Linked DNA regions of Homo sapiens: region 2 is linked to region 1. The links come from fine-mapping of genetic effects on gene expression. A gene starts in region 1. The other region holds a variant in brackets. All regions are shown on one strand. Distances are from middle to middle.

Evidence for each region.
Region 2: its variant is fine-mapped to the expression of ITSN2 in thyroid (GTEx, PIP 0.93).

What each region holds. Positions count from the first base shown.
Region 1 is chr2:24,355,474-24,364,118 of GRCh38, reverse strand. ITSN2 (intersectin 2) reads left to right here and starts at 3,583. Exons shown (of 40, transcript NM_006277.3): 1 at 3,583-3,815. RefSeq lists an enhancer at 3,150-3,299 and silencers at 3,400-3,699, 3,710-3,759, 3,770-4,169.
Region 2 is chr2:24,207,910-24,216,554 of GRCh38, reverse strand. ITSN2 (intersectin 2) reads left to right here. Exons shown (of 40, transcript NM_006277.3): 32 at 323-506; 33 at 3,807-3,905; 34 at 5,608-5,775; 35 at 6,522-6,737; 36 at 7,334-7,455; 37 at 8,236-8,318. Among named protein-coding and RNA genes, the nearest start is that of FAM228A, 37 kb to the right of the region's middle. RefSeq lists an enhancer at 1,388-1,457. The variant T/C (reference allele first, on the strand shown) is at 5,000.

The DNA.
Region 1 (8,645 bases):
GGCAACAAGAGTGAAACTCCATCCTAAAAAAAACAAAACAAAAACAAATAAAAAACCCCCAAAGTTACAGCATTGTTTTGAAGGTAAAACTATAACATGAAATATGAGCTCCAGGTTCTCAGTCTTTCTACTCTATATGATAATGGTATTTATCTTATGGGATGCCTGGACTCTAGAACTGTTGCTTCTACCTATTCTATACTCTTCTTACACTGCAGGTTTGTTTTGGGGGTAAACATGGTAGAAATGGGGTACAGGATGGAATCTTTGAAAACTAACTTAAGGGGAGATTGATAGAACATAAGATACATATGGTTGAGGAGAAGGATCAATAATACATGGAAAAGAAAACAGATAGAGACTAAACGCTCCCAGGGTAAAAGCTAGGTCACCAGGAACAAGTCTAAGAATCTTGCCTAGACTGTGGCAGAACTAGAGGAAGAGAAATGTAACATGGTAGGACTTAGCTCCTCCAGGTATTTGATTTCCAGCTGGTGCCAGAAGTAAAGAAAAGATGCTGGGATTTGGAGAATACTAAGGAGGAAATGTATAGACACACTTCCAAGGCTGCCCTATGAGAAGAGGAAGTCAAGGAACTGGGATGGCGGCTGCATCATCTAAATGAATCATGAACACTGAAAGACACTAAGGATGATGAAGGTCCTGGGCGGAGAGTACTGGCTGCTCCATGTGCAGAAATTCTTGAGGAATATATTGAGTGCCCTGGAAGATGGTAAATGATAAGGATGAGGATAGAGGATGGGTGTAGCTAGTGTTATAAGCCTCATAGGAGAAGGGGCTTTTGCATGTGAGTGGAAAACTAGGATCTGGATGCAGTCGAGGAGCAAGGAAAATGTTTCTTCAGCCACTTCCAAGGTCTGTGCTTCCCTCCTGTATTCCATTCTTTATCTTGTTGAATAGAACTACCATTACCCAAAAACCCAAGAACCCTTTACTCCTTCTCATTCCTTATATCCAACCACCAAATGCTTAATATTGCCCAAATTTATCCCTGAATCACACAGGGTGGGAGGTATGTGTGAGAGAGAAGATAGATAACTGGAGGTGCTTGCATTTTGGGCTGTGATAGAGTAGGACAGGATGGACAAACTGGCCTCAAAGTTCTGAAGGGAACTCTGGGATACAGTTGTTTTAGTACTTGGGATACTGTAGGCATGCATTCAGGACCCTGATTTCCAGCAGAGGTTGTTAGTTTTTTGGTTTATTTTAGGGGGGCTTTAAATTTTTTTTTATTCCTTTATAAGCATCTCTTTCTACAAATTCCATTTTTGTCCTGCCAAGGATTTGGCACCTCCTTTAGAAGGAAAGGAGACTCAGGGTAAATTGCACCAGGTCTAGAACCCGAAAACACAAATGACATTGGTCAAAGGATGGGAGAAAAATGAAGACTAGCTATGTGCCTAACAGGAATAAAAAATAGGTTTTACCTCTCAGACCAACTCTCTGGAGCACTATGTTGTGAAGGATTCTGGGGCTTTGACTCTCAAATATGGGCTCCAAAAGAGCATATCAGTTAACTGGTGAAGGGTGCAATGGGAATGAGGCCACGTGCTCAAGATTGCTATCCTTGGCCTGGGTGGTTTGTTTGCAGATAAGGACAGATTGGCTGGTCCCCAGCAAGTGAGGGGCCTCCTAGACTGATAAAAGAGTCAGGCTTCTCTGTGTCACTGAAGCTCAGGACCTGTCTGTCAGGTCTTGGTCAGGTTCTAATCGAAGAGTTAGGAAAAACACTGAGTGTGAGAGCGGGAAAAGCCTGTTTATCATCATCGATGTTTGGTAAATTCCTCCTAAGCTGGCTGGCCAGTTCAGATAGGCCTGGGTTTGGAGCCATCTCACCTTCACCTGCCTCAACAGGTAAGGAATGAAAGGATGCCAGGGGTTATTTGATCTACACAGATCAAATCAAGGGATATGAGTTTTGGACCCCAGACCAGCCCTCACCCTGCTTCTAAAAGCCAAAATAAATCTTGGGTCTTGGCCGGGCGTGGTGGCTCACGCCAATCCCAGCACTTTGGGAGGATGAGGCGGGTGGATCACCTGAGGTCAGGAGTTTGAGACCAGCCTGGCCAACATGGTGAAACCAGTGTCTACTAAAAATACAAAAATTAGCCGGGCGTGGTGGCAAGTGCCTGTAATCCCAGGTACTTGGAAGGCTGAGGCAGGAGAATTGCTTGAACCTGGGAGGCGGAGGTTGCAGTGAGCACAGATCTCACAGTTGCGCCACTGCACTCCAGCCTGGGCAACGGAGTGAGAGTCTGTCTCAGGAAAAAAAAAAAAAAAAAAAAAAAAAAAAAAAGAAATCTTGGGTCTTATATCCAAAAATCTTGAGTCTTACATTTGGTTACTTTTTTTTTTTTGAGACAGAGTTTCGCTCTTGTCGCCCAGGCTGGAGTACAGTGGTGCAATCTCTGCTCACTGCAACCTCCGCCTCCCAGGTTCAAGCGATTCTCCTGCCTCAGCCTTCCGAGTAGCTGGGACTACAGGCGCCCGCCACCACGCCCAGCTAATTTTTGTATTGTTAGAAGAGGCGGGGTTTCACCATGTTGGCCAGGCTGGTCTCCAACTCCTGACCTCAGATGATCCACCTGCCTCGGCCTCCCAAAGTGCCGGGGTTACAAGCGTGAGCCACTGTGCCAGGCCGACATTTGGTTACGTTCATTAGGAAACACTAACTCCTCCCTCACCCCAATCAAAAGAAAGCCTTTCCCCTTGAAGAAGCTTCTTGTCAAGGGCAAACCTTTGGGGTTTTGGGATACGGTGGCGGCTTGAGTTGAAGTCTGGTCTTTTGTGAGGAGACCAGGAACCGGGAGGGGAGAAAAGAGACAAATTCTGAGTAGGAGCTTCGCCTGTCCCTTGGCGAGGGGTGGGGAGGAAAGTTTAGCTTCGTCGTGCTATGCTCTATGGGGACAGAGTCTTCCTACTGCTCGGCGGAGTGTGACTAGCGTAGAGGGTGCTCCTCGTGGGCGCTCCGCGTGTGTTATGGAGGAGGGCGAGGAATGGTGAATGGATGACCGAGGGTATGGTTAAGTCCTCCAGGTCCCTGAGAAGGGTTCAAGAGGCCTGTAACAGACCCATGGGCAAGGGTGGGATCAACCTCCTTCCCACCTTCCACCCCCCAATTCCCAGAGAATTCGTTCCCCCAGATCAGTGGAGAAAACTTCGGCGAGTGAGAAGGTTCCAGGGAGAACCCCGTGGTGGGTGCAACAGGGATGTGGCAGGCACTGCTTGGGACTTTCCAAAACCCCGGCGTCTGCCGTGGCAGGAAAAGCACCACCCAAGCTCAGCATGTTACCTCGGGGAGGAGGAGCCAGGTGGGTCTGTGCAACTCCAGGAAGGGCTGCCAGGTCTGGGGCTTCGGGGCCTCCCCGAGGGCAGAGAGGAGCGCTTCGGACCCGACCGACTCGGAGCAGACCTTCAGGGTTCAATGCCCCGGAACTCCTGGGGCGAGGAGCCACGCCCGGGCAGTTTCGGGCTCCGGAGGGTGGGGAGTCGGTGCCCGGCAGCGGGCGGGCCGTCAGCTGCCCGGCCCGGCGCCTACCTCCCCGCCCCCCGGCTTCCTGCGGAGGCCGCGGCCGCCATGTTGTTGTGGGGCTGAGGCGGCGCCGGCGGAGCCCTGAGCGGCTGTGACAGGCTACGCAACAGGTTCGCGGGCGGCGGCCTGACGACCAAGCCAGCTGCAGTGGCGGCGACGGCGGCAGAGCAGGGTCTCCCCGCGCCTGCCCGCGCCCAGGCTGCCGGTGCTGAGGGACGCGGAGTCGCGCTGTGACGAGCGGGAGGCGCGGCGAGGGCGCCAGGTGGGTGAAGCCGCTAGCGGGGCTGCAGCAAGGCGCGGGGCAGGTGCGGGCGCCGCGCCCGCTGCCCGGAGGCTCTGCGGGTCGGGCTGAGGCGGCTGTGCGCTCCGCACGATGGGGACGGGTCCTCGGGAGTACGGGCGGCCCCCGAGCTAGGCCCCTGGCGGGCTCGGCCGTGCGGGGCGGAAACCTCCGGCCCCGGGTTCCTTCCTCTGCTGCCGGGCCGGGACAGACGCCGAGGGGGCCTGGGCTGGGCTGCCCCTTCCTTGCGGCCGAGCCCGGGTCCCTGGCCGCGGCCTCGTCTGGCAGGTGGCGGACGCCGGCGAGGGTCGGGGGTGGCGTGGCCCCCTCGCTTTCGGGGTGTGAGCAGAAGAGAGCTCTGGGGGCACCCGCACGCCTCCTCGGGGACCCATTTTATTTTCGCGGAGTTGGTTTTCCTTCCTGGCAAGGGTTGGTGCCGAATGTCAGGTGAGCCGCATCCCGGTGCGTCAAAGTAGCCCGAGTCACGAGAGGACAGTGGGCGGATGCTTGGCGTCTACCGCTCGCGTTCCTCCGGAGTTGGAAATGTTAAATTTACCTTCAGCGTTATTGACTTCCAGAATATACAGGAAGCACCGAGAGATGTAATCTCTCAGGCCAGATAAAGTTTATTTGTGTATTTATTTATTTATTTTTAAAGACGTCTGCATATGCATAGTGAGTGGGTAAACCGAGGCTGAAACTGCAGATGGCTTTGTATTCTATAGAAAGATGCTCCGTTTGGATTTATTAATTATGCGCCTTGTCGCTCTAGAATTACCAATGGCAAGTGTGCTTTATTTGAAACTTGTGTTAATACTGAAATAGGAATATTTTTTGATGGAGCCAACCCCTTTACGATAGGAATTAAGGTTAGCATAGAAATGACTTGCTTTGCTCCATGCTTCTAGTTTGTCTCACTAGTGTTTGCTTGCTTACTCAGAAATAGGCAAGGTGTGACTTGAAATTTTACGTTGTTAGTGAGCTCAGTTTAGGTAGCATAGCTCTTGTAGTTTAAAGCTTCTTAAGCGTTTCGAAAAATTGCCTCTCTCCCTGTGCTGGTTTGCTATATTGTTAATCAGTGATAAAACCTAAAAGCTACCTAGAAACATCGCATAAAACATTTACGCGAATTAATAATGACGTCCTTCCAAATTTAAAGATACTGACAACTCTGATGTGTTTTCCTTTAGCTTTTTTTGGCTGTGCCTGTGACTCTCTTGTAATTTCAAAAGTAAATAAAGTGGATGTATTTTATGTTTTTGAAAACGTGGAAAAAATGTGCATTGCTGCTATTTTGATGTAATATTAATAAGCAGTTGAAAAGCTTGCATTTTTTCACCCTTCCATGCATTGATAACTATTCCCTGTGCCCACCTTTGTAATGAAAGGTAAACTCGTCCAAGAAAACTTGACCTGTACAGAATTACTAAGCAGGGAGTTACCATTGTTCGGTACATCTCAAGGCTAAAATCTTGATCTCTCCTGAATATGAGGAGGTGTGTTAGGCATGTTTTGGGGATTGGATTAATAGTGTTAAAAAATTTGTATTTTCACAAAAATAGCATGTACCCATCACCCAAACTCAGCAGCTTTCAAGAAGCTTTTCTTTTTTTCTTTCTTATTTTAAAAAATCCTTTAACCTTATGTAGTTAGTATATCTTTTTTAAAAAGTAGAAAATCATGTAACCTTAGGATTTTTAGTTTTAATGTAGAGTTTCACAAATTTCCATCTTTAGTAAGACAAAAGGGTCACATATTGGCTGTCTCCTTCAACTATACTTTCTTCAGTATAAAATATGTTTACCATGGTTGTCATTTATCGAGCACGTAACTGCATGTTAGACTCTATGCTAAGTGTTTTACATAATCATTTAAAGCTCACTAAGGCCCTAGGAGTAATTATTATCTTCCCATCAAAAAGGTAAGTGAAATGTTAACCTGAAGTTTGACTACTTTAGGTCTCTGAGCTAGTAAGTACAATAGCCAGGTTTCAAACCAAGATCCTTTTAACTGCAGCACCTGTGCCTTATCTGGTAGAGTCATCTTGGTTCATACATTTAAAAAAGAGTTATCTATGTGCCGGGTGCCCTGGCTCATGCCTGTAATCCCAGCACTTTGGGAGGCCGAGGAGGGCGGATCACCAGGTCAGGAGTTTGAGACTGACCAATAAGGTGAAATCCTGTCTCTACTAAAAAATACAAAAAATTAGCCTGGCATGGTGGCGTGCGCCTGTAGTCCCAGGTACTCAGGAGGCTGAGGCAGGAGAATCGTTGAACCCGGGAGGCGGAGGTTGCAGTGAACCGAGATCGCACCACTGCACTCCAGCCTAGGCGACAGAGTGAGACTCCGTCTCAAACAAAAAAAAGAAAAAAAAAGTTATATGGGCATTCAGTAAAAAATATGTGTTTAGTGAATGAGTGAAAGTACATATTAGTCCATTAAGTAGCATTTTTACATATTGTATTTACTTGTAAAACATTTATATTAACAAGTTCCAGAAATGATTCAGAATAAACGAGTTACATTACCAAAAATGTGATATATTTATTACCATCTAACGGTGCATTTTCTTTTTCTTTTTTTGGATTCAAGTTTTTTTAGTACCTTTTTTATTTATGGAAAAAATTTGTGAAAAAACTGTTTTTGAAGAAAGGCAGACTTTCTTGTGTGCCGATTTTTTTTTATTTCTTACAAAAAAAACAGGATATATGTGCAGAACGTACAGGTTTGTTACATAGGTATACGTGCACCGTGGTGGTTTGCTGCACCTATTCACCCGTCCTCTAAGTCCCCTTCCCTCATTGCCCCCCCACAACAGGTCCTGGTGTGTGTTGTTCCCCTCTGTGTCCATGTGTTCTCAATGTTCAACTCCCACTTATGAGTGAGAACATAGGGTGTTTGATTTTCTGTTCCTGTGTTAGTTTGCTGAGGATGATGGCTTCCAGTTTCGTCCATGTCCCTGCAAAGGACATGATCTCATTCCTTTTTATGGCTGCATAGTATTCCATGGTGTATGTATATCACATTTTCTTTATCCAGTCTATCATTGACGGGCATTTGGGTTGGTTTGGTGTCTTTGCTATTGTAAATAGTGCTGTAGTAAACATACGTGTGCATGTGTCTTTAGAGTAGAATGATTTCTATTCCTTTGGGTATATACCCATTAATGAGATTGCTGGGTCAAATGATATTTCTGGTTCTAGATCCTTGAGGAATTGCCATACTATCTTCCACTATGGTTGAACCAATTTACATTCCCAGCAACAGTGTAAAAGCGTTCCATTTCGCCACAGACTTGCCAGCATCTATTGTTTTCCTGACTTTTTAATAATCACCATTCTGACTGGCATGAAATGGTATCTCATTGTGTTTTTTTTTTTTTGAGACGGAGTCTCACTCTTGTTGCCCAGTCTGGAGTGCAATGGCGCGATCCCAACTCACTGCAACCTCCGCCTCCTGGGTTCAAGTGATTCTTCTGCCTCAGCCTCCTGAGTAGCTGGGATTACAGACGCCTGCCACCACGCCCTGCCAATTTTTGTCTTTTTAGTAGAGACATGTTGGCCAGGCTGGTCTAGAACTCCCAACCTCAGATGAGCCACCCGCCTTGGCCTCCCAAAGTGCTGGGATTACAGGCTTGAGCCACTGCACCCGGCCATCATTGTGGTTTTGATTTGCAGTTCTCTGATGATCAGTGATGTTGAGCCTTTTTTCATGTTTGTTGGCCTCAAAAATGTCTTCTTTTGAGAAGTGTCTATTCATATCCTTTGCCCACTTTTTGGTGGGGTTTTTTTTTTCTTGTAGATATGTTTAAGTTCCTTGTAAATTCTGGATATTAGACCTTTGTCAGATGGATAGATTGCAAAAATTTTCTCCCGTTCTGTGGGTTGCCTGTTCACTCTGATGATAGTTTCTTTTTTTCTTTCTTTTTTTTTTTTTTTTTGAGACAGGGTCTTGCTCTGTCTCCCAGGCTGGAGTGCCGTGGTGCCATCTTGGCTCACCACAATCTCTGCCTACCAGGTTCACCTCCCAAGTAGCTGGGATTATAGGCATGTGCCACCACGTCCAGCTATTTTTTTTTTTTTTGAGATGGAGTCTCGCTCTTGTCCCCCAGGCTGGAGTGCAATGGTGCGATCTTGGCTCACTGCAACCTCAGCCTCCGGGGTTCAAGTGTGATTCTCCTGCCTCAGCCTCCTGAGTAGCTGGGATTACAGGCGCCTGCCACCATGCCCAGCTAATTTTTGTATTTTTAGTAGAGATGGGGTTTCACCATGTCCAGGCTGGTCTCAAATTCCTGACCTCAGGTGATCCACCCGCCTCGGCCTCCCAAAGTGCTGGGATTACAGATGTGAGCCACTATGCCTGGCCTTTTTGTAATTTTTTAAAAATAGAGACAGGGTTTCACCATGCAGGCCAGGCTGGTCTGGAATTCCTGACCTCAGGTGATCCTCCCACCTCGGCCTCCTATAGTGCTGGGATTATAGGCATGAGCCACTGCACCCAGCCTGATGATAGTTTCTTTTGCTGTGCAGAAGCTCTTTAGTTTAATTAGATCCTATTTGTCAATTTTGGCTTTTGTTGCAATTGCTTTTGGCATTTTTGTCATGAAGTCTTTGCCCATGCCTATGTCCTGAATGGTATTGCCTAGGTTTTCTTCTAGGGTTTTATGGTTTTGGATTTTATATTTAAGTCTTTAATTCATCTCAAGTTAATTTTTGTATAAGGTGTAAGGAAGTGGTCCAGTTTCAGTTTTCTGCATATGGCTAGCCAATTTTCCCAGCACCATTTACAGAATAGGAGATCCTTTCCCCATTG
Region 2 (8,645 bases), 150 kb after region 1:
CGAACTCCTGGGCTCAAGCAATCCTCTTGCCTCGGCCTCCCGAAATGCTGGGATTAGAGGCATGAGCCACCGTGCCCAGCCCACCCAACTGCAGGGACTTTATTTACTTTTTTTTTCTTTGCTGACATCACACCCCGGTTGGCTTGACCAGCAGAGCTTTTGGCCCAAGCTATCTCCTCTTCCTCTTGAGTTCTCCTTCCCAGTGCCAGAGGTTCTTAGGTAGCTCACTGGTTATCATTACCATTGGTCTGCCATGGGATTCATCCTTTAATTACCTAAGTCATTCACTTAGAAACACAAAATGAGAGTGTGTTCTTGGCAGGGCTTTGCGGGTGCGGAAGAAGACCGGGGGCGAGAAGATGCCGGTGCAGATGATTGGGGACATCCTGGCCGCTGAGCTGTCCCACATGCAGGCTTACATCAGGTTCTGCAGCTGCCAGCTTAATGGAGCAGCTCTGTTACAGCAGAAGACAGATGAAGACACAGATTTCAAAGAATTTTTAAAGGTAATTCCATTCTGGGCCTTGCGGGTCAGGCTCCTTCTGAGGCTGGAGGCAACAGCACACAGTAGCCCAACAGGGAATCCCAGCAATGGAGAAGGGCATCCCCATCAGTTTCCAAAGGAAACACCAAAACGGCAGAGAATTTTCCGATTGTTTTGTGTTGCCTTTATGTAGACCTGATTTTTTCCTGGCACTGGGACCATCATTTTTTCCCCATCTGATAGCAGAGTGTTTTTTTTTAAGCATACTTACTTATCAGCTACTTTATACTCCCAAGAAACAACCAGAATGTCACTTTCTTAATTTTGTAAATTGCCTTCATTTAATACCTGCCTTATTCCAGAAAGAGTATAAAATAGCTTACTCTTTTTTTTTTTTTTTTTTTTAAACAGAATCTTGCTCTGTTGCCCAGGCTGGAATGCAGTGGTATGATCTTGGCTCACTGCAACCTCTGCCTCCCAAGTTCAAGAGATTCTCCTACCTCAGCCTCCAAAGTAGCTGGGATTACAGGCATGTGCCACCACGCCTGGCTAATTTTTGTATTTTTAGTAGAGACGGGGTTTCACCATGTTGGCCAGGTTGATTTCGAACTCCTGACCTCAGGTGATCGGCCCACCTTGGCCTCCCAAAGTGCTTGGATTACAGGTGTAAGCCACCGTGCCCGGCCCTAAAATAGCTTACTCAAATATATAAAATGCAACAAGATAAAATTTAAAATAACTAGATGAATAAACTTGGACAAAAGGAAATGAGAGTAGGAAACAAAGACGATACCAGGAATTAGGATAATATATAAAATGCATATCTGTGATCCTGTAAATATACCAGAAGTGTGCACAGATGTCATCAAAGCTTCCAGAAACTGATGAGCAGAAGAAGAAAGGATCAGTTCCGTGATGCCACGTCACAAGTTAAACATGAGAAGTAAAGCTACAGCTGTACTCAGAGAGAGAACACTGTGTATAATGTAATGAGTCAACAACATCCTTCGTACAGGTTATTATAATAGAAAGTCATATTTTGAGAAGTTATTTGCATTGATGTTGTTCAGTAGTAGAAACTATTATTATACCTGTTAAAATGGTGAGGAAATTGAAAGTAAAATCTGTTTTCTTGCTTTTTTTCATATTTCCTGTTGGGTTTTTTTGTTCATGAAATACTGCATATTGGGATATATTAAACAGCCATATCAGTACTTAAGGAGAGTATATAATTTAAATATTTTCATTATCAGAAAAGAGTAGAAAGTAAGAATAAAATATAAAGATGTTTAGGCAGAGAATAGAAATTAGAAAAGGAAAATGGAGGAAGTAATAAAGGTAAAAAGCACAAATTATATCAATATATCCAAGAACTGTTATATTGAAGAGAGGTAATAAAATGTAACTGATGAATCTAATAGAGAAAGAGGAAAAAACACAAGTAACAGAATGGATGTAAGGAGATCTCTTAAATTAAAGTGCATGTAATTCCAAAAGACATGCTAACAAATGTGAAAACATGAACAAAATTTGTAATTTTCTATTAAAACTTGAAAACTGGCTCAATAAGAATAGAAAATCTTTTAAAAATAGAAAATCTTACTATTACGATACTATACACCAAGGAGAAAATTGAGAAACTTACCCCAAAAAGGAGCTGGGTTCACTTGATGGATTTAACAGGGAATTCTCTCCAACTCTAAAGGAACAGATTATTCTATATTATACAAACTGTTACAGATCATAGGAAAAAGTAAAAAGGTCACCTAATTCATTCTATAAAGCAAAAGTAGCCATGATTCCAAGGCCTGTTTAAGTTAAAACCCACTATCATTTACAAATACAGCTGTTAAACTCTTAATTAAAGTAACAATTCATAAAATTAAGCATTACATGAAAAGAAGAGCCTATCATAACCAAATAGGATTATCTCAGGAGGCTATAGCATACTATGCTTAGAACAAGACAGGCTTCAGAATCTCGGCCCCGTCACTGTCTAATTGTGTGACCAGAGGCAAGTTATTTAACATGTGGGTGCCTTCAGTCCCCTCATCTATAAAAGGAGATTATCACACAGTACTTTTAAAGGACTTTAACTCAGAGACCAACACATTACTATTAGCATTCAATAAATGATTATCGTATTTTTCCTTACGATGATCTCAGGGATGCAAAAATGATTCAATATAAGGCAGTGAGGACAGAGCCCTTCGATTTGTGATAAGGGTAGGAGGCAGGGAGTTGCCTCGAAATGAACTGGAAGAAACATGGAAACCAAGACCATAGAATTAAACATTCATCAGAATAATGAGATAAACTGAGAATTGTTAGTATATGTGCATGTTTTAAAATAATGATGTAAATAGGATTTCAAAGTCATCACAATTGTAACAGTAGTCAAAATAAATAAAAATACTGCCTCATGAAAGGCCTGCTATAGGTTACCTTAAAAAGCAAAATCTAGCAATAAGCTGTGTTCTAAAATGTTACTTTTTAAAAAGACTCAGAAAATATGGAAATAAGAAGCACGAAGATGCTTGTGACAGCAACCTATATAGATACGGCCAAAACAAAAGGGGGGCAATTTAAATATCCAGTAGTGGGGAAATGATGAGGTGGATTACAGTGAGTGTACTTTTCAGTCATTAAAAGCTGCCATCCTAGAGCAGCAGCTGCTGTCTTCAGGCAGTGTACCAGAGCTAGGGGTAGAGGCAAGTAGGATGTGGGCCCTGGGCCTGGCGTTCACAAATCGGGTGTGGAATAGAGACACTGCAACACGATGCCTCTCCCTGTATCACCTGGTGCACATGTGGTGTATGCTAAAGGTGGCCAGGGAGGGTCATGGAAAGGAGGGAAGGTGTCCCAGGGGAGAGCCTGGACAAGGGGAAGCAGGGCCTGAGTCTTGAGGGTCAAGTGTGAATCAGCTCCGAGAAGAGAGGGCAGGGGACAGTCCCAGCACAGGTCATGGGAAAGAGCTGAGGAGCATCCGCTGGGCTTGGCACATGAGCTGAGATATTCCTACTGTGAACCTAATAGGTATCATTTTAGATCCTGAGTTATTTAAAAGAAAGTCGAAGCCCCCTCACTTTACTACAGTGCGACATATCAGTGTAGCAAAATTACACTTGTATGTTGTGAATATACACAAATTTTAAAATAAAAATAAAAAATAGAACACTCACCTAAAAAAAATTCTAAAACAGTAAGACAGGGAGAAACATAAATAAATAAAAGAAATGTGAAATCTAAAAGGCGATCAAAGACCAGTGCTTCCTGTGATCGGAGCTGTGATTTCCTCACGAGCCTCACTGTTGTTTTGCAGAAGCTGGCATCTGACCCGCGGTGTAAAGGAATGCCCCTCTCCAGCTTCCTGCTGAAACCCATGCAGAGGATCACCCGCTACCCACTGCTCATCAGAAGTGTGAGTGTGCAGGCCGGGCAGTGGGGTCTGAGTTAGGAGCAGGATGCGCTGAGGTCCACAGAGGCCAGATCCTCAGGGAGCCCTGAGCATGCCACCTCACCCTGCACACAGTGTGACACCGCACAAGTGATCCCACTGTCCCGGGGACCAGATGCCTGTGTGTGTGTGTGCACAGAAACACGCTGAATCCTTGAAGTGGGCAAATCAGAGAGGAATCCAGTATCACTTGGGTAACCTGTCACCCACCTTTCAAGAAACTCCCCAGCATCTCAAAGTCATAAGTATACTTGTCCAGGCAGGGAAAGGCCCCTCTAGGTCTCCAGTTGTGGAGCCCATCTTGAACCCAGAGAAAGACCAGAGTAACCTTAGACTCCAGTCTTTCCTCTGAGATCTGCCTCCATCCACCCTGAACACCTTTCCTAGATGTCCCAGGAGGCTCCACTTGGCACATCATAAATAGAGTTCATTTGTGTCCCTCGCTGTATTCGGCTTCAACATTCCTTCTAAAATTCCTTCCAGCTTTCTTTTTGATAAGCAATAGGGCCCTCTTGAGCCCATAAGCCTTCTAAGGAAAAGGCAGACTTTACAAAAGATTATCCCACGATTAACCATTGATTACAGTAACTTACAAAGAAAAGCAGCAGGAATATGATAAGCTTGTTACTTCTATTGATGATTCCTTGACTTTTGGTCTGTTAGCTGTGTGACCTCAACATAGACCTCATGTGATAGACGCCTGCACTAAACTGAACCATAATGCAGGTTCACAGCCCCTTCATTGAAATACTTGGGGCCAGATGTGTTTCAGAATTCGGAATGTAGCTCAAATACCATATAATATATGACTCCTCAACTGAGCCTTAGGGTAGCACTTACAACCAGACACACTAATATTCCTACAGTGGAACATAAGAACAATCACTGTAAGAGTAAGTAAATATATCTCTTCTGTTTAGGTCAGATTTTGCCACCAAATGGGTACTGAATAAAAACTTTAGGCTCTCAGGCTGTTCTGCATTTTAGAATTGTAAATGAAGGACTGTGCACTCATCTGACTAGAGTGAGAGAGTCCAGACGGGGCATCTGGTGATGGC[T/C]CCTAATTTCTGGAGGGACCACACACGTTTGTATTCTGGCCTCTGCGCGTTCACAGTTGCAGCATGCGTCGTTTGAAATCGCTTCAGAATGAACAGAATGCATTTCTTCCACATGCTGACAATGTGATTTTATTGTATTTTTCCTGTGGCATGGGAGTCATTGCTTTCATCAGATTTTTTTCAAAAGGATCAGTGACCCCAAAATTGTTATGAACCATTGCTATTCAGCAAGTTCACACTTACCACAGCTGCAGCCAGTTTATACAGGAGGGCGCACCCTTACATGGCTTAAATTTCGGAAGGAGTCGGGAGGCTCCCGCCTATTACCGGGAGCCAGTCGGAGAGCAACCAGAGACCCACACAGTTCAGAGCACTTGATCCGTTTAGCACTGTCACCTTGTCACAGCAGCGTTACCTGTCCCTGTGTCCCCAAGAACTTGTGGGAGTACGAGTTTCTCAAGGGCGGAAAGTGTCGTCTTGTTCACCGCCGCGTTTCCAGGGCATGGAAGCAGTCCATAACATGGGGTTGGAGGAGCGGTCCTGCGAAGGTCCAGGTGGGCAGGTGAGAGACGCAGCTCCCCCATGTGACACTGCCCACTCTTTTCCAGATTCTGGAGAACACCCCGGAGAGCCATGCAGACCATTCCTCCCTAAAGCTGGCCCTCGAGCGGGCAGAGGAGCTGTGCTCTCAAGTGAATGAGGGAGTTCGGGAGAAGGAAAACTCGGACCGACTGGAGTGGATCCAGGCGCACGTGCAGTGTGAAGGCCTCGCGGAGGTCAGGCCTGTGTGGTTAAGCCGTGCGCCTCCAGGGAGGCTCTGGGTGGGGAACCAGCTCCGAGCCTTCCCTCACGTGGACAGTCTGCACCTTAGGCAGCCTGCGTGGACTCACCACCCTGCCCCTGCAAAGGCATTTTTTTTTCTTTTTTTTTTTTTTTTTTTTGAGACGGAGTCTCACTCTGTTGCCCAGGCTGGAGTGCAGTGGCGAGATCATCTCGGCTCACTGCAAGCTCTGCCTCCCGGGTTGGAGCGATTCTCTGGCCTCCATCTCCCAAGTAGCTGGGACTACAGGCATCTGCTACGATGCCCAGCTAATTTTCGTATTTTTAGTAGAGCTGGGGTTTCACCATGTTGGCCAGGCTGGTCTTGAACTCCTGGCGTCAAGTGATCCTCCCGCCTCTGTCTCCCAACAGTGCTGGGATTGCAGGCATGAAGGGCATTCCTTCTTGGATTGTCATCTTCCTTTCTCCTAAGGAGAGAACACTGGGATTTTTTGTTTTGAGTTCTTTGAATTCAGCTGGTAGAATCAGTGTTCTGTGGCTAGAAGTAATGATTTTCACTGGGCCAGTTTGGACTCTGAAGAGTAATGTATTTAAGGATCTTTCATGCAAAGTGAATGATTCTAGCCACATTCCCACCTAGAAAACTCCACCACAGTATCCTCAGGCCCAGGGCACTGGCCTCTCAGGGGCACTGGATGGTTTGTGCCGGGATTTAAAAAGTGAAATTTTCTTTCTCTTTAAGCAACTTATTTTCAACTCTCTCACCAACTGCCTGGGGCCCCGGAAGCTCTTACACAGTGGGAAATTATACAAGACCAAGAGCAACAAGGAACTGCACGGATTCCTCTTCAATGACTTCCTGCTTCTTACCTACATGGTCAAGCAGTTTGCTGTTTCCTCTGGCTCTGAGAAACTTTTCAGCTCGAAGTCCAATGCTCAATTCAAAATGTATAAAACGGTGAGTATCACGCGTCTGGGGGTAGCATCAGGGGCCTAATGAGGTGTTGCCTCTATCTTAAGGCCTTCCTGGCAGACCCTGAGCTGGCCTTACGGGACCCTCCTCACCTGGTTCCAGATCGCTCGTGCTTCCTTTGCTGCTTCCCACGGGAAGGGCCCCATGCAGCTGGGCACTCCCCACCTGCCACAGGCCATCAGCCAGATTCCAGCTGAGATTCTGGCTTCCTCCTGGCCAGCGTGACACCTGGGCTCACCACTGTGTGCATTCAGCATTGGGTCTCTGTAAGCCGAGCCCCAGCACAGCACCAGCGTTGCTAGCAGAGAGCCTTTTGCACCAGCCGTCATGGGCGCTTGGAGCTCCTGTCCCCACCCAGTCCCAACACCTGACCCACCTCGATAATGACTTTTCCAGAAATGGAGGCTTCATTGTTCTTACAAATGGAGGTTTCATTTGTTCTGTGTAGAAGACCTTAGACGCTAGACCCCTTTCTCCTTCTCAACAAGGCTCTTCAGAACAAACAGAACTCTCTCTGGACATAGGCGGGTGGAGTGTTCTAGCCCATCTCACAGCCTGTGTTTTGGCCCTAATTCTTTCAGCCCATTTTCCTGAATGAAGTCTTGGTGAAACTGCCCACAGACCCTTCCAGCGATGAGCCTGTCTTCCACATTTCCCACATTGATCGGGTCTACACCCTCCGAACAGACAACATTAATGAGAGGTCAGTCCTGACCATGTGTGGCCTGCCTTGAACTCTGGGAGAAGGCCTGGACGTCTCCCTCTGCCATAAACCCATCTCCAGCCGTGCTTAAGCCCCACTAATTCTGTATCCTGAACCTCTCTTAACACATCCCCTCTGCTCCAGTCCCATGGTAGGCCTTGGTCACTGCAGCTGCCTCCTAACATGCTTCCCGGCTTCTAGTCTCTCCCCACACCACTCAGCAGCCTTCCCAAATGGCAGATCAGCACCTGAGGCCCTGCTACAGTCCCTGCAGGGGCTGCCCGCAGGCGACAGCCCACTGTGCTTTGCTGGTTTCCGAGGCCTCCTTGGGCCACAGGCCTCAGCCCTCGTCCCTCCACCTGCAGACTTTCGCCCCTCAGGCGCCCTTGTGTGGGTGCCATCCCCGCTGTTCCCAGCTTCCTTCAGGCTGCAGCTCCAACAGTGCCTCCGCGGCGCCAACCCGGGGGGTGCTGCTGCTCCTCTGTGTGCGCTAGAACCCCTCGTGACAGGTATCATCCGTGGGGCCAATGCATCATCTGTCTCCAGGTCCCAGCGCCTTGCGAGTGCCTGGCATTTTGTGGTCAGCCAAGAAGGGTCACTACCAGCTCTCATACTCCATTAGCATAAGCATCTTTCAGTTGACTAATATCAGGTCTTTGATAGGAAACTTGTGAAAGTTGAGGTTAGCAAAAGACTGAAGAACATGTGCAGAGCTCTGGGGCTCCACGCTGACCTGTGAGGGTGGGATGCGGCCAACGGCTGCCCCTGCTTCTCCCGTAGGACCGCCTGGGTGCAGAAGATCAAGGCGGCGTCTGAGCAGTACATCGACACCGAGAAGAAGAAGCGTGAGAAAGCTTACCAAGGTATCAGGGTGCCCGGAGGGTGGGACGCAGCCCCCAGGGGCCCTAGGAATGCCGGCCACTGCTCCTGCAGTCAGGCTGATGATATAGGGACGGGTCTGAAAGACCAGACCTGCTGCGGGATCAGACCAGAGAGCCCTCCCCTCTTGAAGCTACTACTGCAAACCTCCCTGGGGCTCCTGCCCACACAGACACGGGCTGGCAGTGCCAGCTCCGGGACCTCCCTCTCTGCACCACCTCTATCCCCCCCACTCCACTGCACCTTCTCCACTCCTTTCTCTCCATGACTCACCTCACCTCTGCTTGGGCTGTGGTGCTCCATTACATGCC